3 linked regions of the Homo sapiens genome follow. The protein of the gene in region 2 interacts with the protein of the main gene of each other region in a biochemical or structural test. Each region holds a gene or a part of one and is shown on either strand. Other genes may lie near its edges.

Evidence for each region. Proteins that work in one complex are often made in the same cells at the same time.
Region 1: of the proteins of NLRP3 (region 2) and SYK, one has a biochemical effect on the other in vitro, tested with the Homo sapiens proteins (one study listed by IntAct).
Region 3: of the proteins of NLRP3 (region 2) and CSNK1A1, one has a biochemical effect on the other in vitro, tested with the Homo sapiens proteins (one study listed by BioGRID).

Annotation. Positions count from the first base shown.
Region 1 is NC_000009.12:90,895,797-90,899,064, forward strand, and holds the end of SYK (tyrosine-protein kinase SYK), read left to right. Parts: 3' UTR 1-2,753; downstream 2,754-3,268. UniProt on the Homo sapiens protein: Non-receptor tyrosine kinase which mediates signal transduction downstream of a variety of transmembrane receptors including classical immunoreceptors like the B-cell receptor (BCR).
Region 2 is NC_000001.11:247,426,139-247,433,175, forward strand, and holds part of NLRP3 (NACHT, LRR and PYD domains-containing protein 3), read left to right. Parts: intron 1-3,446; coding exon 3,447-3,617; intron 3,618-7,037. UniProt on the Homo sapiens protein: Sensor component of the NLRP3 inflammasome, which mediates inflammasome activation in response to defects in membrane integrity, leading to secretion of inflammatory cytokines IL1B and IL18 and pyroptosis.
Region 3 is NC_000005.10:149,506,425-149,513,461, reverse strand, and holds part of CSNK1A1 (casein kinase I isoform alpha), read left to right. Parts: intron 1-252; coding exon 253-392; intron 393-1,589; coding exon 1,590-1,668; intron 1,669-3,508; coding exon 3,509-3,583; intron 3,584-6,328; coding exon 6,329-6,435; intron 6,436-7,037.

The sequences.
Region 1 (3,268 bases), on a different chromosome or scaffold from region 2:
AGACGGATGGCAGGATCCAAGGGGCTAGCTGGATTTGTTTGTTTTCTTGTCTGTGTGATTTTCATACAGGTTATTTTTACGATCTGTTTCCAAATCCCTTTCATGTCTTTCCACTTCTCTGGGTCCCGGGGTGCATTTGTTACTCATCGGGCCCAGGGACATTGCAGAGTGGCCTAGAGCACTCTCACCCCAAGCGGCCTTTTCCAAATGCCCAAGGATGCCTTAGCATGTGACTCCTGAAGGGAAGGCAAAGGCAGAGGAATTTGGCTGCTTCTACGGCCATGAGACTGATCCCTGGCCACTGAAAAGCTTTCCTGACAATAAAAATGTTTTGAGGCTTTAAAAAGAAAATCAAGTTTGACCAGTGCAGTTTCTAAGCATGTAGCCAGTTAAGGAAAGAAAGAAAGAAAAAAAAAAAAGGCCTGGATACTGCTTTTGCTGTCTCTGTTATGAGATGGAAGACTTACATGTTTGTGATAAAAGGGGACCATGAGAATGAATTGGCTTGGCTTACTTTCCCCCTGAAATCCTCTCTCCTGCAGACTGTCTTGAAGACCTGGTGACTGGTAAATAAAGCCCTGCATGGAGGCTGCACAGCAGGGGCAAGAGGCCCATCCCCCAGCATCTCACTGAGGACAGCTTCAGGCTGCCTTCCTCTGAACGTGGTCCACACCTTCCTCTCCTCCACAGAGAGGGTGCCGCCAGAATCCCCTGTCGCTTTCTGTGTCTGCAATGGGGGGCAGCACAGGGATCAAAGCCATCTAAAGAGTTTCCAAAGAAAGTATTAATTCAGAACAAGCCAAAGACCCTGAGCCTCACCACAAACAGGCCTTTTGGAGTGTGAATTTGAGTTGAAGATACAAGATCGGAGAATGATTTTCTGGTCTTAACTAATCCTCATCTTCATGTTTGATCTTTAAGAAGTCATCACCCATTGATTTCAGTTTTGCTGTACCTCTTGAAAGTTAAAGAGACATCTCAGCACTTTAGGAGGCCGAGGCGGGTGGATCACTTGAGGTAAGGAGTTTGAGACTAGCCTGGCCAATATGGTAAAACCCCATCTCTACTAAAAATACAAAAATTAGCCGGGCATGGTGGCATGTGTCTGTAGTCCCAGCTACTCGGGAGGCTGAGGCAGGAGAATCGCTTGAACCCAGGAAACGGAGGTCGCAGTGAGCCAAGATCATGCCACTGCACTCCAGCTTGGGCATCACAGCGAGACTCTGTCAAAACAAACAAACAAAAAAACAACTTAAAGAGGTAATTTAGCCATCATTCTTATGCCAGCAGATATAAATAAACTTGGACCCATCTGGTCTTCAGCTAAACCTGAGACATTTTAAAGTGCATGGACAGCCATGGACAGCAGGCCCTCCTCTAACAGGGGATGCAAGGCATGGAGAAAGACAATCAGTACCCAAGCTCAGCCACAGAAGACAGGAGTCACTCATATAACTTGTGTTTAGAAGTTTTTGGTAGCCACGCACACTTTCTGAAATCACACTATCTGGTGGTTTAATCATATTTTTAAAGACAGAATCCCTGAGTGCTGAGCAGATTCTCAAAACACATTTAGAATCCCTGAAATTAGAAAGATCAATGACAAAATATCTGTCAGCCAGGCCACAAACAGGTGTAAAATTATGAAAGGAGTGGTTGGATGTGCCAAGTTTGGTAAAGTGGTGACTGCATCTGAGAAAGAGGCTGTGAGGCTGAACTCTTGGTGGCTTCCTTCTGTAACTTCCAGAGGGAGTCTTCAACACAGGCCCCGTGCTCGTAGGAATACGGTAGCACCTATGTAGGAAGTGCGTGGAGTTTTCTGTCTTCTTTCTGTGTGATTTTTGGCCTTTTTATCAGCACTTCTCCCCTCCCAGGAGCCTGGGGATGCCAAACATCCAGAATGTGATGGGACAAGATGGGGGCAGGGGCCTCACCTCCCTGCAGAGGTCCGGCCAGGTCTCCTTGTCCCTGGACAATCTCCTGAGCCTCTCTGCTTGGTGGAGCAGGCACCTGTGTGCAGAATTCCCACTGTGGCCAGCACGAGGAAGTCTTTTCTAGTGAAAATGTGTCTTGTGGTCAGGAATAATTATCCTTTCCCCTGTAGCCACCAAGGAGGGCAAATAGAGAAAGGTAACCTAATTGAAGGATTGGTCATGTGAAAAGGGCTACATTTGGGAAGCTGGGAAAGGCCTCCAGGCTTCTAGAGCAGCTAGCTTGGGCTGGATTCTCATACCCAGGCTGCCCCTTGGATTGTTCTACCCAAGCTTTTCCCTGGGGTCTGGGCTCACTCCATAAGGTAAGGTGCCTTTTACCTTATGGTCCTTCTTTAGCAGGTAACAAAGGAGCATCAGGGGCAGGCTGCCCTGGTGGCATCACACTGGCTAGTGAGGCCGTGAATATCTTGTCCCCCAGCAGGGCCGACAGTTTCTATCACAGAAAACAGTGTGTTCAGTGGTGAAAATCGTTGCATGCATGTTTTCATCTGAGCGTGTCCTTCTCCCATACTCCCTATCAGCCAGCCCTGCCTGTAGCTGCTGTATGGTGATTGCACTTGGACATCAGTCCAATGACTGCAAGTCGGCCTGGATTTTCACTTGCAGAGGCTACAGCTGCATTGTCAGGTCTCCCAGCCCTGCAGAGAGCTCCCTCCACTGGTTAGCAGTGTGTTGTGTTTTCCATTCATTTCAGAAGAGCTACATTGTGTCACTGGACATTTTTAAAAACTGTGATTTTTAATAAAAATTTAAAATTTGCTTTGTGATGATTTTCATGGAAGTTATTAGGATGTGGTAAGTCACACTGTCAAATAGTGTCAAGCAGCATTGTCAAAGGGGTAGCTAAATGTTTTCTAAAACATTAAGTCCCTGCCATGTCCCAAAAAAGTGAATGTGTTGGCCGGGTGCAGTGGCTCATGCCTGTAATCCCAGCAGTTTGGGAGCCCAAGGCAGGAGGATCTCTTGAGCCCAGAGTTTGAGACCAGCCTGGACAACATAGTAAGACTTTAGCTCTGCAGAAATCAAAACATTAGCCGGGTGTGGTGGTATGCACCTGTAGTCCCAGCTACTTGGGAGGCTGGGGCAGGAAGATTGCTTGAGCCTGGGAGGTCGAGGCTGAAATGAGCTGTGATGGCACCACTGCACTCCCAGCTGGGTGACAGAGCAAGATCCTATCTCAAAAAAAAAAGTGGATGTGCACAGGTCAAAGTTGACTGTGAGATTCCACCACACAGAACGGCGGGGAGGCCCATCAGGGAGGGCCCTGTCCTGCC
Region 2 (7,037 bases):
CAGTCTGAGAAAAAGTGTGTGCAGGTGACAGTGGAGAGAGACACAGTTTCCTTGGAAAAAAACATGATGAAGGTAAATCAAGGGAAATAGAGCAGAAATGTGGAGACCCTCTTTCTAGGCCCCCATGTTGCTCTGCACTGGGCATTGCCAAAACCCCGTTTTCGGGTCTGTTCACACACTTGCTGGGTGGTTGGAAGCTAGTGGCCAAGTCTGTGCAATGAAGTGGTTGAGTCACCTGACTTCTGAGTCCCTTTTGGGTTTATCGTTCAGTGCCTCCTGCAGAAGGACCACCCACAGTGGTTGTAGGAAGGTGGCCACCCTGTGATGTGTGAGTTTAGCCTGGATAGAAGACACTTGACGTGGGGCAAAATTAAGGGAAACAGGAGGCTTGGCCCTTCCACAGGCAACAATGAGTTTCAGCTTTCTTGATCCGTTGACATTACCATGACCAGGACCACCTTCCTAGTCATGGTTTGGCCATGAAGGACTGACTGCCCACAGGGCCGCAGTGGTGGTGAAGACCCAGGTCCTGGTCACAGGGACTTGAGGTCTGGCTGTGGGACAGTCCGGAAACAAGTGCAGATGTCGGGGAGGGGGTCATGGGCTCTGACAAGGAAACTTGCAGAGTATCCAAAGCACAAGGGGACGAACCTGTTCACCAGCGGGGCACGGGTGGGTGTCCCCGCTCAGCCAGCTTCCGGAGGATGGGCAGTGAGAGAGTGAGAGAAGGAAAGGGGCAGCCAGGCTGGGGGCTTACGGTGTTGAGAGAGAGGGCAGGTGTGGGAAAGCAGGGTACGGTTTCTACGGCAGCAAACAGTTCCGAGTGACTGGAAAAAAGACAGTTGTCTTCATTCATCAGGTTGCCATAACAAAACACTGCAGGCTGGTTGGCTTATAAGCAAAAGGAAGGTTCACCTTACGGTTCTGGAGGCTGGGAAGTCCATGATCCAGGCTCTGGCAGATCTGGTGTTTGGTGAGGGCCTGTTCCCTGGTCGATGGTGCCTTCTCACTGTGTCCTTACATGGTGAAGAGGCAAGGCAGCTCTCTGGGGTCCCTTTCCTAAGGACAGCAATCCCACTCCTGAGGGCTCCACCCTCATAACTTAACCACACCTCAAAGGCCCCATCGCCTGATACGTCATGTTGAGGGTTAGGATTTCAGCGTATGGATTTTGGGGCACACAAACATTCAGACCATAGAAATGGGAGAAGAAGAGTAAGACAGAGAGAAAAGTAGGCAGAACTACTCATTAAGAGTGAGGTGGAAGGTGGAGAGGGCAGGGAGACCTTATGAAGATCACACATCTGTGAGGAAGGTTTGCACACTCTCACTGAAGCCCCGGTAGGAGGCTCAGCACCCATTTCTCTAGATAGCACCTTCCTTCCTCTGAGGACAGATTCTGACTGGAGCCCTGGTAGGGGGCTCAGCACCCATCCCTCTAGATGGCACCTGCCTTACTCTGAGGACAGACTCTCACTGAAGCCCCGGTAGGAGGCTCAGCACCCATTTCTCTAGATAGCACCTTCCTTCCTCTGAGGACAGACTCTGATTGGAGCCCTGGCAGGGGGCTCAGCACCCATTTCTCTAGATAGCACCTTCCTTCCTCTGAGGACAGACTCTCACTGAAGCCCCGGTAGGAGGCTCAGCACCCATTTCTCTAGATAGCACCTTCCTTCCTCTGAGGACAGACTCTGATTGGAGCCCTGGCAGGGGGCTCAGCACCCATCCCTCTAGATGGCACCTGCCTTACTCTGAGGACAGACTCTCACTGAAGCCCCGGTAGGAGGCTCAGCAACCATTTCTCTAGATAGCACCTTCCTTCCTCTGAGGACAGACTCTGATTGGAGCCCTGGCAGGGGGCTCAGCACCCATTTCTCTAGATAGCACCTTCCTTCCTCTGAGGACAGACTCTCACTGAAGCCCCGGTAGGAGGCTCAGCACCCATTTCTCTAGATAGCACCTTCCTTCCTCAGGACAGACTCTGACTGGAACCCTGGTAGGGGGCTCAGCACCCATCCCTCTAGATGGCACCTGCCTTACTCTGAGGACAGACTCTGACGGGAGCCCTGGTAGGGGGCTCAGCACCCATCCCTCTAGATGGCACCTGCCTTACTCTGAGGACAGACTCTGACTGGAGCCCTGGTAGGGGGCTCAGCACCCATCTTTCTAGATGGCAGCTGCCTTACTCTGAGGGCAGGAGCTTGCTTTGTATGTTCCAGTCCCTTCTGAGAACCAGAAGCCTGAGCATCTATTAGAAATGCAGGATTGTGGACCCAATCTTAGACCTAGAGAGCTAGACTTTGCATTTGAATGAGAGCTACAGGTGATTCAAAGGTGACTGCATGTGTGGGTGCAGTGGCTCTTGCCTGTAATCCTAGGTTTTGGGAGGCCAAGATGGGGGGATTGCTTGAAGCCAGGAATTCAAGTCCTACCTGAGCAGCAAAGTGAGAGCACCTCTCTACAGAAAAACAAAAGCAAAAATGTGACTGCATGTTGGAGCCACCTGGCTTTTTTTAAATAAAAAAGATCCATATAGCTGGACACAGTGACTCGTGCCTGTAACCTCAGCTACTCGGGAGGCTGAGGCAAGAGGATTGCTTGAGCCCAGGAGTTTGAGGCTGCAGTGAGCTATGATCATGGCACTGCATTCCAGCTTGGGTTTCATCTGAAAAAAAATTTAAAAAATTCATCTAGTTCCACCTCAGAGCTTCTGATTTTATTTCCATGGATGTGGCCTGGGCTTGCGATTTTCTTTTTCTTTTTTTTTTTTTTGAGATGAAGTCTTGCTCTGTTGCCCAGGCTGGAGTGCTGTGGCATGATCTTGGCTCACTGCAACTTCCACCTCCCAGGTTCAAGTGATTCTCCTGCCTCAGCCTCCCTAATAGCTGGGATGACAGGCTCGTGCCACCACACCCAATTAATTTTTGTATTTTTAGTAGAGAGAGGGTTTCACCATGTTGGCCAGGCTGATCTTGAACTCCTGACCTCAGGTGATCTGCCCGCCTCGGCCTCCCAAAGTGCTGGGATTACAGGTGTGAGCCACCATGCCCAGCCTGGCCTGAGGATTTTTGTGAGCACTCCTGATGCTGTTGTGTAGCCAGGAGTGAGGACTGCCCTCTGATCACCCAGCACAGAACGTTCAGGGCCATGTTGGGACAGTGGACTGGTAAGGGCGAGAGGAGGACACTGGGGAGCAGGCTGTAGGGTGCCACAGTCCGCCACAGTCACAGGCTCATGCTCTCCGTCCGAGAGGAGGCAGAACTGCTTTTACCAAGGCTCATCCAGCCCTCTTCATTTCTCTGGGAACAATTTTTGGTTTCGTGACCCATTTCTTAATCCCCGGAAGGCATTTCTCTGAACTGGTGCCAGGCACCCCGGCCCCCAGCTCCAGTTAGTTATTATTCGAGGCTGATTTCTTTTCTGTCTGTCTTCCTTCTAATTCCTAGATTGGTGAACAGCCACCTCACTTCCAGTTTTTGCCGGGGCCTCTTTTCAGTTCTGAGCACCAGCCAGAGTCTAACTGAATTGGACCTCAGTGACAATTCTCTGGGGGACCCAGGGATGAGAGTGTTGTGTGAAACGCTCCAGCATCCTGGCTGTAACATTCGGAGATTGTGGTGAGTCCCCGTGCATGTGATCTGTGTGAGTGCAAGTTCATATGAGAGAGAGAGAGAGAAACAGACTGGAGAAAGATCTTCAGGACCAGGTTGCTGGTGTGGTTTCTTTCTTTTCTTTTTCTTTTTTTCTTTTTTTGAGGCAGAGTTTTGCTCTTATTGCCCAGGCTGGAGTGCAATGCCGTGACCTCGGCTCACTGCAATCTCTGCCTCCTGGGTTCAAGTGATTCTCCTGCCTCAGCCTCCTGAGTAGCTGGGATTACAGGCACCCACCACCATACCCAGCTAATTTTTTGTATTTTTAGTAGAGATGGGGTTTCATCATGTTGTCCAGGCTAGTCTCGAAGTCCTGACCTCAGGTGATCCGCCCGCCTCGGCCTCCCAAAATGCTGGGATTACAGGCATGAGCCACCGCACCCGGCCGGTGGTGTGGTTTCTGCTGTAACAAAGTGCCACAGACTGAATGGCTTCAACAACAAAAATTCATTTTCTTGCAGTTCTGAGGCCGAAAGTCTAAGATCAAGGTGTCAGCAGGGTTGGTTTCTTCTGAGGCCGCCCTCCTTGGTTTGTAGATGCCCCCTTCTCCCTGTGTACTGATGCCATCTTGCCTTGGGGGGAAGAGTGGCCTAGTCTCCTCTTCTTACAGGGACAGCAGTCCTGATGGATTAGGCACAGTCAGGCATGACTACACAAGACCTAATGTTAATCTAGTCACTCCTTTAAAGACCCCATTTCCCAAAACAGCCACATTATGAGGTCTTGAGGATTAGGGCTTCAACATGTAAATTTTTGGGGGGGCACAGTTCAGCCCAGAACAAGTGAGAAGGTAGAATGGGTTGGAGGCCAGCTGGGGAAGTTTTGTGTGGGGAAGAATGAATGAGGAACTAAAAAAAAAGTCATTTCTTGAAACAACCATGATGCTCGATATATTCCATTTCCTCATGGGCCATGTTCATAGATGAGAGTTGGAGAATTTGCCATTTACAACAATGGCAACCTCACCTAAAAACTATGAAAATACTTTTTTTTTTTTTCTTTGAGACAGGACCTCTCTCTGTCACCCAGGCTGGAGTGTGTGATCACAGCTTACTGCAGCCTCGACCTCCCAGGCTCAAGCAATCCTCCCACCTCAGCTCCCCCGAGTAGCTGGGACTACAGGCATGCACCACCATGCTGGCTAATTTTTGTATTTTTTTTGTAGAGATGTGGTCTCATCACGTTGCCCAGCCTGGTCAGAATGCTTTGTATGGGTTGAAATGTCACAGGGAATCTCCTGTGACTTTATTAATAATGTGCTTGCTCACACCTGTAGTCCCAGCTACTCGGGAGGCTGAGGCAGGAGAACTGTGTGTACCCGGGAGGCGGAGATGGCAGTGAGCCGAGATCGTGCCATTGCACTCCAGCCTGGGTGACAGAGCGAGATTCCATTTCAAAATAATAATAATAATAATAATAATAAAAAATGTGCTTGCTTTCTCCCACACCATGAATCAGATTCACACGCCCCACCGCGCTGGTGCCTGGGCCGCCTCACTAGCTCTGTTTCATTCCCTGCTCTGTGGACGCATGCAGGCGTCTGCATTTTTGAGGAGCTGCACAGCAAGTGTTAAAGTCCGCCACTCTAGGACATTTTGCTACCTCCCTCTCCGGCTCAACACACTCACCTTGTCACCAGTCTTATCAATTTTTCCTCCTACCCGAGCTGTTTTCCACTTTTCCTCGTCCTCACCCCACCAGCCCAGGTCCAGCAACTGTCACCACTTGCCTGGACACGCAGTGACCTCCTAGACCATCAGCTCCCCGGGGATGGGGTTTGCGTTTGTTTGTCTTGCTGTCATCTTTGCCACGCCTGGACAGACATCTTAGTACCCATCAGTGGTCAAAAGCACGCACTGAATGAATGTTGGCTCTTTGGTCTCCCTGTGTCTGCCTTTTTCCCTCACCCGACCATTCTCTGCACAAAAGTAAGATGGTCCTTTAGAAAATTCTGATTCGATTGTGCTGTTCGGTGGCTTAAATGCTTTCTGTCTGCTCTGCTCTTTATTTTTTACTTTATGTATTTATTTTTGTAGATGTAGGGGGCGCAAGAGCAGCTTTGTTTCATGGATATGTTACTGCACAGTGGTAGTGTCTGGGCTTTTACTGTAACTACCCCTTTTTTTTTGAGATGGACTCTCGCCGTGTTGCCCAGGCTGGAGTACAGTGGAGTGATCTCGGCTCACTGCAACATCCACCTCCTGGGTTCAAGCAATTCTTCGAGTAGTTGGGATTACAGGCATGGGCCACCACGCCCAGCTGATTTTTGTATTTTTAGTAGGGACAAGGTTTCACCGTATTGGCTAGGCTGGTCTCAAACTCCTGACCTCGTGATCCACCCGCCTCGGCCTCCCAAAGTGCTGGGATTACAGGCGTGAGCCACCGTGCCCGGCCTTAGTGTAACTCTTACCCAAATAGTGAACATTGTACCCAATAAATAATTTTCCAGCCCTCACCTGGCTCCCACCCTCCCACCCTTCTGAGGCTCTAGTGTCTATCATTCCATGCTCTATGGATGTTACCCTTTGTTTAGCTCCCACTTGTAAGTGAGAACGTGTGGTATTTGACTCTGTTTCTGAGTTGTTTCACTTAAGGTAATGGCCTCCAGTTCCATCTGTGTGGCTTCAAAGATGTGACTTCATTCTTTTCTATGGCTGAGCAGTATTCCATTATGTATATAGATCACACTCTTCATCTTTGCTCTTTTGGTAAATTTCAAATCGTAGTGCCATGGAGACTGGTTGTTTGGGACATTTAACCTTATTTCTCCAACTTCATGCCCAAATTCTCTCCCCACTGCCATTGCCCCTGTATGATTCTGGAGAGGCAGACACAAACAGGGAAGGGTAGGGGACAGTGAGATGCTTCGCAGAGAAGTAGAGATCCATTTGTCCATTTGCTTGAAGTTGGTGTAAGGATAGGGACAGAAAGGAAGGTGGTCTAACAGGCTCCAGGACCTATGAACTATTGCCCTGGAAAGAAGCTAGAATGTTGTTCTTGCCCCCATGACAGGGATAAAGTATAGTTTTTGTTGCTGGTGGTGGTGGTGACGGTGGTAGTGATGTGCGTGTGTGTTTGTGTGCATGTGTGTGACGGGGAAACTAATCAAGAATCAGAGCTGCAGCGGGATGTGGAATCCCAGCACTTTGAGAGGCTGAGGTGGGCAGATCACCTGAGCCCAGGAGTTCAAAACCAGCCTGAGCAAGCTGGTGAGACCTTGTCTTTAGAAGATAATAATAATAATAAAAATAAAATATAAATAAAATAAAATGGCTAAGCATGGTAGCACATGCCTGTATTTGCAGCCACTTGGGAGGCTGAGGCAGGTGGATCCCTTGAGCCCAGGAGTTCGAGGTGGCAGTGAGCTATGATCTCGCCAGTGCACTC
Region 3 (7,037 bases), on a different chromosome or scaffold from region 2:
GAAATGGGCCTGTGAAATCTGCAAACGACAAGGATAAACTACTAGACTTTTTTTTTTTAACTTGATTTATTGATGAAGACTAGTAAAAGCTTATGGGGGGGTGTTAAGTCTGTTCATTATCTGTTCTATTAATACTTAGGATACTTTATTTTGATATATTTGAATGCATAGAATAGATACCATTTAATGAATAAGACGCAGTTTAATTGAACAAGGTTGGAAACCTAATGTTTCTGTATTTCTCTTTTAAAGTTATTCCTTATTGATTTTGGTTTGGCCAAAAAGTACAGAGACAACAGGACAAGGCAACACATACCATACAGAGAAGATAAAAACCTCACTGGCACTGCCCGATATGCTAGCATCAATGCACATCTTGGTATTGAGCAGAGGTAAGTTCGAAAATGGAATGTGCTTATCATAGCCATAGCAGAAGCCATCAATGGGTTTTTGAAATATTTTAGTTTCTTACAATGTCTAAGGATGTTTCTTGGCTGAGGATTTGAAGGATGCTTATTAATCATTTTACCTGCTGCTTTAACCAGTGTAGAGAAGACCGTTAAATGAGGTCTTCTGGATTTTTTGTTGTTGTTGAAGGTTGTCTCTTGGGGGGAAAATACTGCGTGATAGAAAGTTAGAAGCATAAGTGCAATGTTGACGTTTCTTTTTGCAGCTGAAGATAGTACATATATTTTTAGAGCTATTTGGGGCTTTTTATACTTTAGTAATTCACGCTGAGTTTGGGAAGAATGCATTATTTATTTTTAAAAGGAAAATGTTATCAGTGTCCTAATAAACCAAAAGTGGGTTGATGGACCATCTCCTGTTATACTTCACTCAAATATATAAATTAATAGGATCTAGTTTAAAGTAAAAAAAGTAACAGTCTCTGCTCTCTTCCTATTTCTTCACATGAGTTCTAGAGTTTCGAGTTCCTTTCATCTTTTACAGTCACTTTTTGCTCCTTAAAACTAGCATAGAAGTAATAAGTAGAAAAAACAATGATATGCCTCCAGGTTAAAGAACCTCATACCAAGAATTTCAGGCTTAAGAAATATCCATGAATATCTGAATGATCTAGGTTAAACTGTAATGTCACTTTTTCTGTACGCCAAGGCATTACCTATCCTTAAATATATATATATCTAAATATATATTTGTATGTATGTGTATATAGATATGTATGCATGAATACATTCATATAGATGTTCAATTAGTTTTAAGTTGTAACTCCTTTTCAGTACTTCTGAAGTTTTTTTTTAATGAGTTTCTGCAAAACATAGAAATGTCATCCTGCTTGGTTCATTAAGCTCATTTAGAGGGTTGTTTAGCCAAATCGTTTCTGTTCTTTTAAAATTAAATTGTAAGACAGTTGTTTGTCAGATTTTGGATTCCATGGAAAAAGTTTTGTTTAGAGGTAGGTAACACATGAACTTTTTAAAATCACCTTAAATAAGTAGCTTCTTGCGTAAGACACCAAATAGTGTTCCCTCCTCATTTGGGAACATTTCTTCTGGGTACTTGACTTTCTTTCATATGTTTTTTCATAATAATAGTTCCAGTTTATAAAATTACGTTCTCTTTTCTAGTCGCCGAGATGACATGGAATCATTAGGATATGTTTTGATGTATTTTAATAGAACCAGCCTGCCATGGCAAGGGCTAAAGGTAAACCAGACTCACATTATCAGATTTTTCTCTCTCTTTTTTAGAATAAAAATATATATTGGAGAAGATAAGATTTAAGGTCCCTTCTAAGTCTGAGATTTTTCTGAGATATAAAGAATTAACCTTAATTTACTTTTTACCTTTTATCTGGGAAAATGAAACCAGATCATTTTAGTAAGAACTTAGTTCAGCTGAAGAACAGTGTCCTCTAAGAGACAGTAAGCTGGTACCCACTGGTAGCCACTAGCTCTATCTAGATGGAAGTGGGCATGGACTAAGAAAGGTGGAGACTTTCTCATTTTGATGTGTTGCCATTATGTTGAAAATGTATGTTTTTATGTACAGCAAGACCTGTTTATCCAGCAATACATGTCCTAACATTTTGTTTCTATTAGCTAGGAGTTTACTGTTACTTTTGTGAGTGTATGTTAATGATAAATCACCGTATCCTAATTTTGGGTGGGGGTGGGGGCATGGGGAATGGTCTTGCTCTGTTGCCCAAGCCGGAATGCCTGGCTCACTGCAGCCTGAACCTCCTGGGCTCAAGCAGTCCTCCTATCTCAGCCTCCTACCTGTAGCTGGGACTACAGGAACATGCCACCATGCCCAGCTAATTTTTAAATTATTTTTTGTAGAGACAGTGCCTCACTGTGTTGCCCAGACTGGTCTCAAACTCTTGGGCTCAAGTGATTCTCCTGCTTCAGCATCCCAAAGAACTGGGATTACAGGTGTGAGTCACCACTGTTGGTGTGTCCTAAATTTTAATGGCTATTTTGGTACCTTACCAGTTCTTTGAAGGAATACCTGTATTTATTGAGTGGCTGTGAGCTAGTTGTAGTGCTCAGTCCTTGGGTGGGTAGCTTTATCTAATATGAGTATTTTTAGTTTAGAAAAATATTGTGACTTATACAGTTAACTCCATTTATTAATGTCACTAATTGATGAACAAATTTTTTTGTATTAATCTGATGCCTTTGCCCTTGTGTTGAACATGGGTTAAGAAAATGCTTTTCAGGCTGAGCATGGTGGCTCATGCCTATAATCTTCAACACTTTGGGAGGCCCAGCCAGGCGGATCACTTGAGCCCAGGAGTTCAAGACCAGCCTGGTCAGTATGGCAAGACCTCACCTCTACTTTAAAAAAAAAAAATAGCAGGGTGTAGTGTCACATGCCTGTAGCCCCAATTACTCAGGAGGCTGAGCCGGGAGGATTGCTTTGAGCCCAGGAGTTCGAGGCTACAGCGAGCTATAATCGAGCCACTGCACTCCAGCCTGGGCAACCGAGGGAGACCTTGTCTCAAAAAAACAAACAAACAAACAAAAAAACAAAGAAAAGGAAAAAGGAAAGAAAATGCTTTTCAGCTGGGTATGATGATGCACACCTGTAGTCCCAGCTACTTGATAGGCTGAATCAGGAGGATTGCTTGAGGCCAGGAGTTGGAGGCCACAGGGAATTACTGCTGAGCCTGTGAATGGCTACTGCACTCCAGCCTGGGCAACATAGTGAGACCCCATCTCCTTAAAAAAATATATAGAAAGAAAGAAAATGCTTTTCAATTTTGGCCCCAGCCATTTTTACTTAAATCTAATATCCATATATTCCTATTAGACTCACCCTTTCCCTATAGCTAAAATTAAATTCTTAGAGAAGAAACTTACATCAGAAGTTAACAGTTTGGGAAAAATTTTTTTTAGATGTATTATACTTTGATTTTTTAAATTCTGGGTTAAAATTTCTCTTGAATCTCACAGGTATATGTTTATATGTCTAGTGCGTTAAACTACCATGGTTCTTCTCAGTAGCACTGAGTATATCTTTTTTATTTTATTCTTTTCCACAGGCTGCAACAAAGAAACAAAAATATGAAAAGATTAGTGAAAAGAAGATGTCCACGCCTGTTGAAGTTTTATGTAAGGTAAGTATGCATGATGAATATTAAAAAAATATAAATGAAGCCAGGCACAATGGCTCACACCTGTAATCCCAGCACTTTGGGAGGCCAAGGCAGTAGGTCACATGAGCCCAGGAGTTCAAGACCAGCCTGGGCAACATAGGGAAACCCCATTTCTACCTTAATAGATAAATGATCCGGCTGGGCACAGTGGCTCAAGCCTGCAATCCCAGCACTTTAGAAGGCCGAGGTGGGCGGATCACTTGAGCCCAGAAGTTCCACAAGACCAGCCTGGGCAACATGGTGAAATACCTTATCTACCAAAAATACAAAAATTAGCTGGGTGCAGTGATACACGTCTGTGGTCCCAGCTACTCAGGAGCCTGAGGCAGGAGGATCACTTGAGCCCGGGAGGCTCCAATTGCAGTGGTGAATCTTGGCTGTCTTGCAAGGATCTGAGATTGTGCCACTGCACTCCAGCCTAGGTAACAGAGTAAGACTCTGTCTCAAATGAGTGAATGAATGAATGATCCAGGAAGAAAAAGGAACATTTTATTTGCCAGCTCTGGAACTTGTAACATTGAATTAGGTAGCTATTCACCATTTTAAATTTACATTTTTATTATTCTAAATATCTTTAACAAGGACTTTTAACATAGGGGTCTTTTTAAATAAGTGTTTTGCTAGGCACAGTGGCTCACAGTTGAGGAGCCACTTGGTAGGCTGAAGGAGGGTGGATCGCTTGAGCCCGGGAGTTCCAGACCAGTCTAGGCAACATGGTGAAACCCCATCGCTACAAAAAATGCAAAAATTAGCCTGGCATGGTGACGCATGCCTGTAATCTCAGCTTCTTGGGGATGCTGGGGCAGGATGCTTGAGCCCAGGAGGTCGAGGCTGCAGTGAGCCAAGATTGCACCACTGCAGTCCAGCTTGGGTGACAGAGTGAGACCCTGTCTCAACAACAACAAAAATAAGTAAAATAATAAAAAATAAGTTAAATAAACGTTTTAAGTAAGTAAAATAAGTGTTTTATGTTTCTGGTTTGTTAGGGCTCTCTAATCTGTTGAAAACTAGGGGTAAATAAACAGGGCAGGTAAACATTTTCAATAGAACCTCATTAATCTATAAGAAAAAGTAAGAAATATTCTCCTTACCCTAAACTAGTGCTGGAAAAGAAAGGTTATCAACAATTAGTACATTAAGGAACAGGGAAACATGCAGACAGATTGGAGCAATCCAAAATAGCAGCTGTCCAACAATACAGGAATACAGAAGACAGTTTGAATCACACTCATTTTTTCTGAAATTTTCAACTTCATAGAAAGGCAATTGAGTTTAGAATAGAGAGGTATTTGTGTCATGATGAATAACCATGATCTCATCCATAAAAAGAAGGCCATATGGTCTTTCAGACAAGAAAGAATTGTATACCTGAAATTAAGTACAAAGCAGTATACAAATAAATAGTTGAGGGAAGAAATCAGTGAGAGTTAAAATAGTAATTATAAAGTGGTGAGATTGTTTTCAGTCTCATTGTCATACTGTTTACCATTAACACGGGCCATAAATGTATATAAATGTTGAGTTTTAGAAAGATGTATAATATGTATTATTTTACATCTTTTAACATATGTATATGTTTCAAGTGGTCACCCAATTTATATCGGTGCAATCAATAAAAAATGTTGCAAGCATTTCCATTCTATCCTTCCTAACTCCAGGACATGAGAAATTTCTCATAAGGTTGTAGAAAGAGATTGTAACTTTAACTCTACAATCATAAGGTTGTAGAAAGAGACTGCCTCCTTTAACTTTACCACTCTCCACATTGGCATTTACTCTAGGAGAGGAGATATAGAGGTTTGTGCTCTTTTAATATTTTGTATTTCCACATTGCTGATTGGGGAAATCCTTTTGGTGACTGATACCTAGAGCCTTGAAAATGTTTATACATTGTTGAGAATCTTTCCTAAGGAGCTAAATGGAAAAATTCTATGCCCACAGATGTACTTAGCAGTATTATTAATAATAGAGAAAAATTAGAATACATCCAAATGTTCAATTATAAAGAACAAGTTAATGATGTATATACTAGGTAGAATATCATGCAACCATTTAGAAACTTCTGAAGGCTGGGCATGGTGGCTCACACCTGTAATCCCAGCACTGTGGGAGACCAAGGAGGCCAAGGGGGGCAGATCTCTTGAGCTCGGGAATTTGAGACCATCCTTGGCAATCTGACAAAACCCTGTCTCTACTAAAAAATACAAAAAATTAGCTGGGCGTGGTAGCTCGTGTCTGTAGTCCCAGCTACTCAGGAAGCTGAGGTTGGAGGATCGCTTGAAGCCTGGGAGGTGGAGGTTGCAGTAAGCTGAGATTACACTACTGCACTCCAGCCTGGGAGACAGATTGAGACCCTGTCTTTAAAAAAAAAAAAAGTTCACGAAGAGGCGCGACTTTGATAAAATGACAGGTTTTAACAAGTGGGCTATGTAAGTTATTTAAGAACATAGTACTGTATAGGAAAAGCACTATATGGGAAGAACATATGTATTTCTTCTACTAATATTGTACATAATAGGGTAGGTAGGGTCATGAAATTTTATTTAAATTTATGAGGAGACCAAGCCATCATTTTAGCTCTCATATCTTCCTATGAAATGGTAAAATATCCCGCCCAAAAATATCTTTTTGCTTATACTTAAATGCATTTATTTTTCTATCTTGAAATGTTTGTTTTTAACTTTGTTTTAACCCTTGAACCTATAGGGGTTTCCTGCAGAATTTGCGATGTACTTAAACTATTGTCGTGGGCTACGCTTTGAGGAAGCCCCAGATTACATGTATCTGAGGCAGCTATTCCGCATTCTTTTCAGGTCAGTTTTTAAGGTATTTTAAGATTATAAACTCTGTGAGGGAAATTGGTTAAATTTACCTAACAAATTCATTCTGATAAATACTAAAGTAAAGCAGATCTAGCTAACATGAATAAAAGGTTTCAGAAACTGATTTATTTGGGACTAATTTGGCATTTTTCTATTTGTAGTGTAAATAGGTGATTTTAGTTTGGAGTGGATAGAGAGTTGAATCATACTCAAAGTAGAATGTAACTTTTCCAGAATAGTTATAATTCATATTAGATATAAGTGGCTGTCAGTGCCTTCTGGAACTCTCCAACTTTGTACAGTACCAAATAAAAAGCAATTAAAATATCACATAGTCATGGAGTCTGATCAAGTGGTAGCAGTCCTAAACTAGGGTAGGGTTCCTTAGGCACAACCCAGAACTGGTCTTGAAAAAGGGGGGGGAATAGATTACATGTGGCTCAAACTCTTAGTTGGAAGAGAGTAAGAATTGAGGTAATCCGCCCAGGTACGGTGGCTCACGCCTGTAATCCCAGCACTTTGGGAGGCCGAGGCGGGCAGATCGCTTGAGGTCAGGAGTTAGAGACCAGCCTGCCCGACATGGTGAAGCCCCA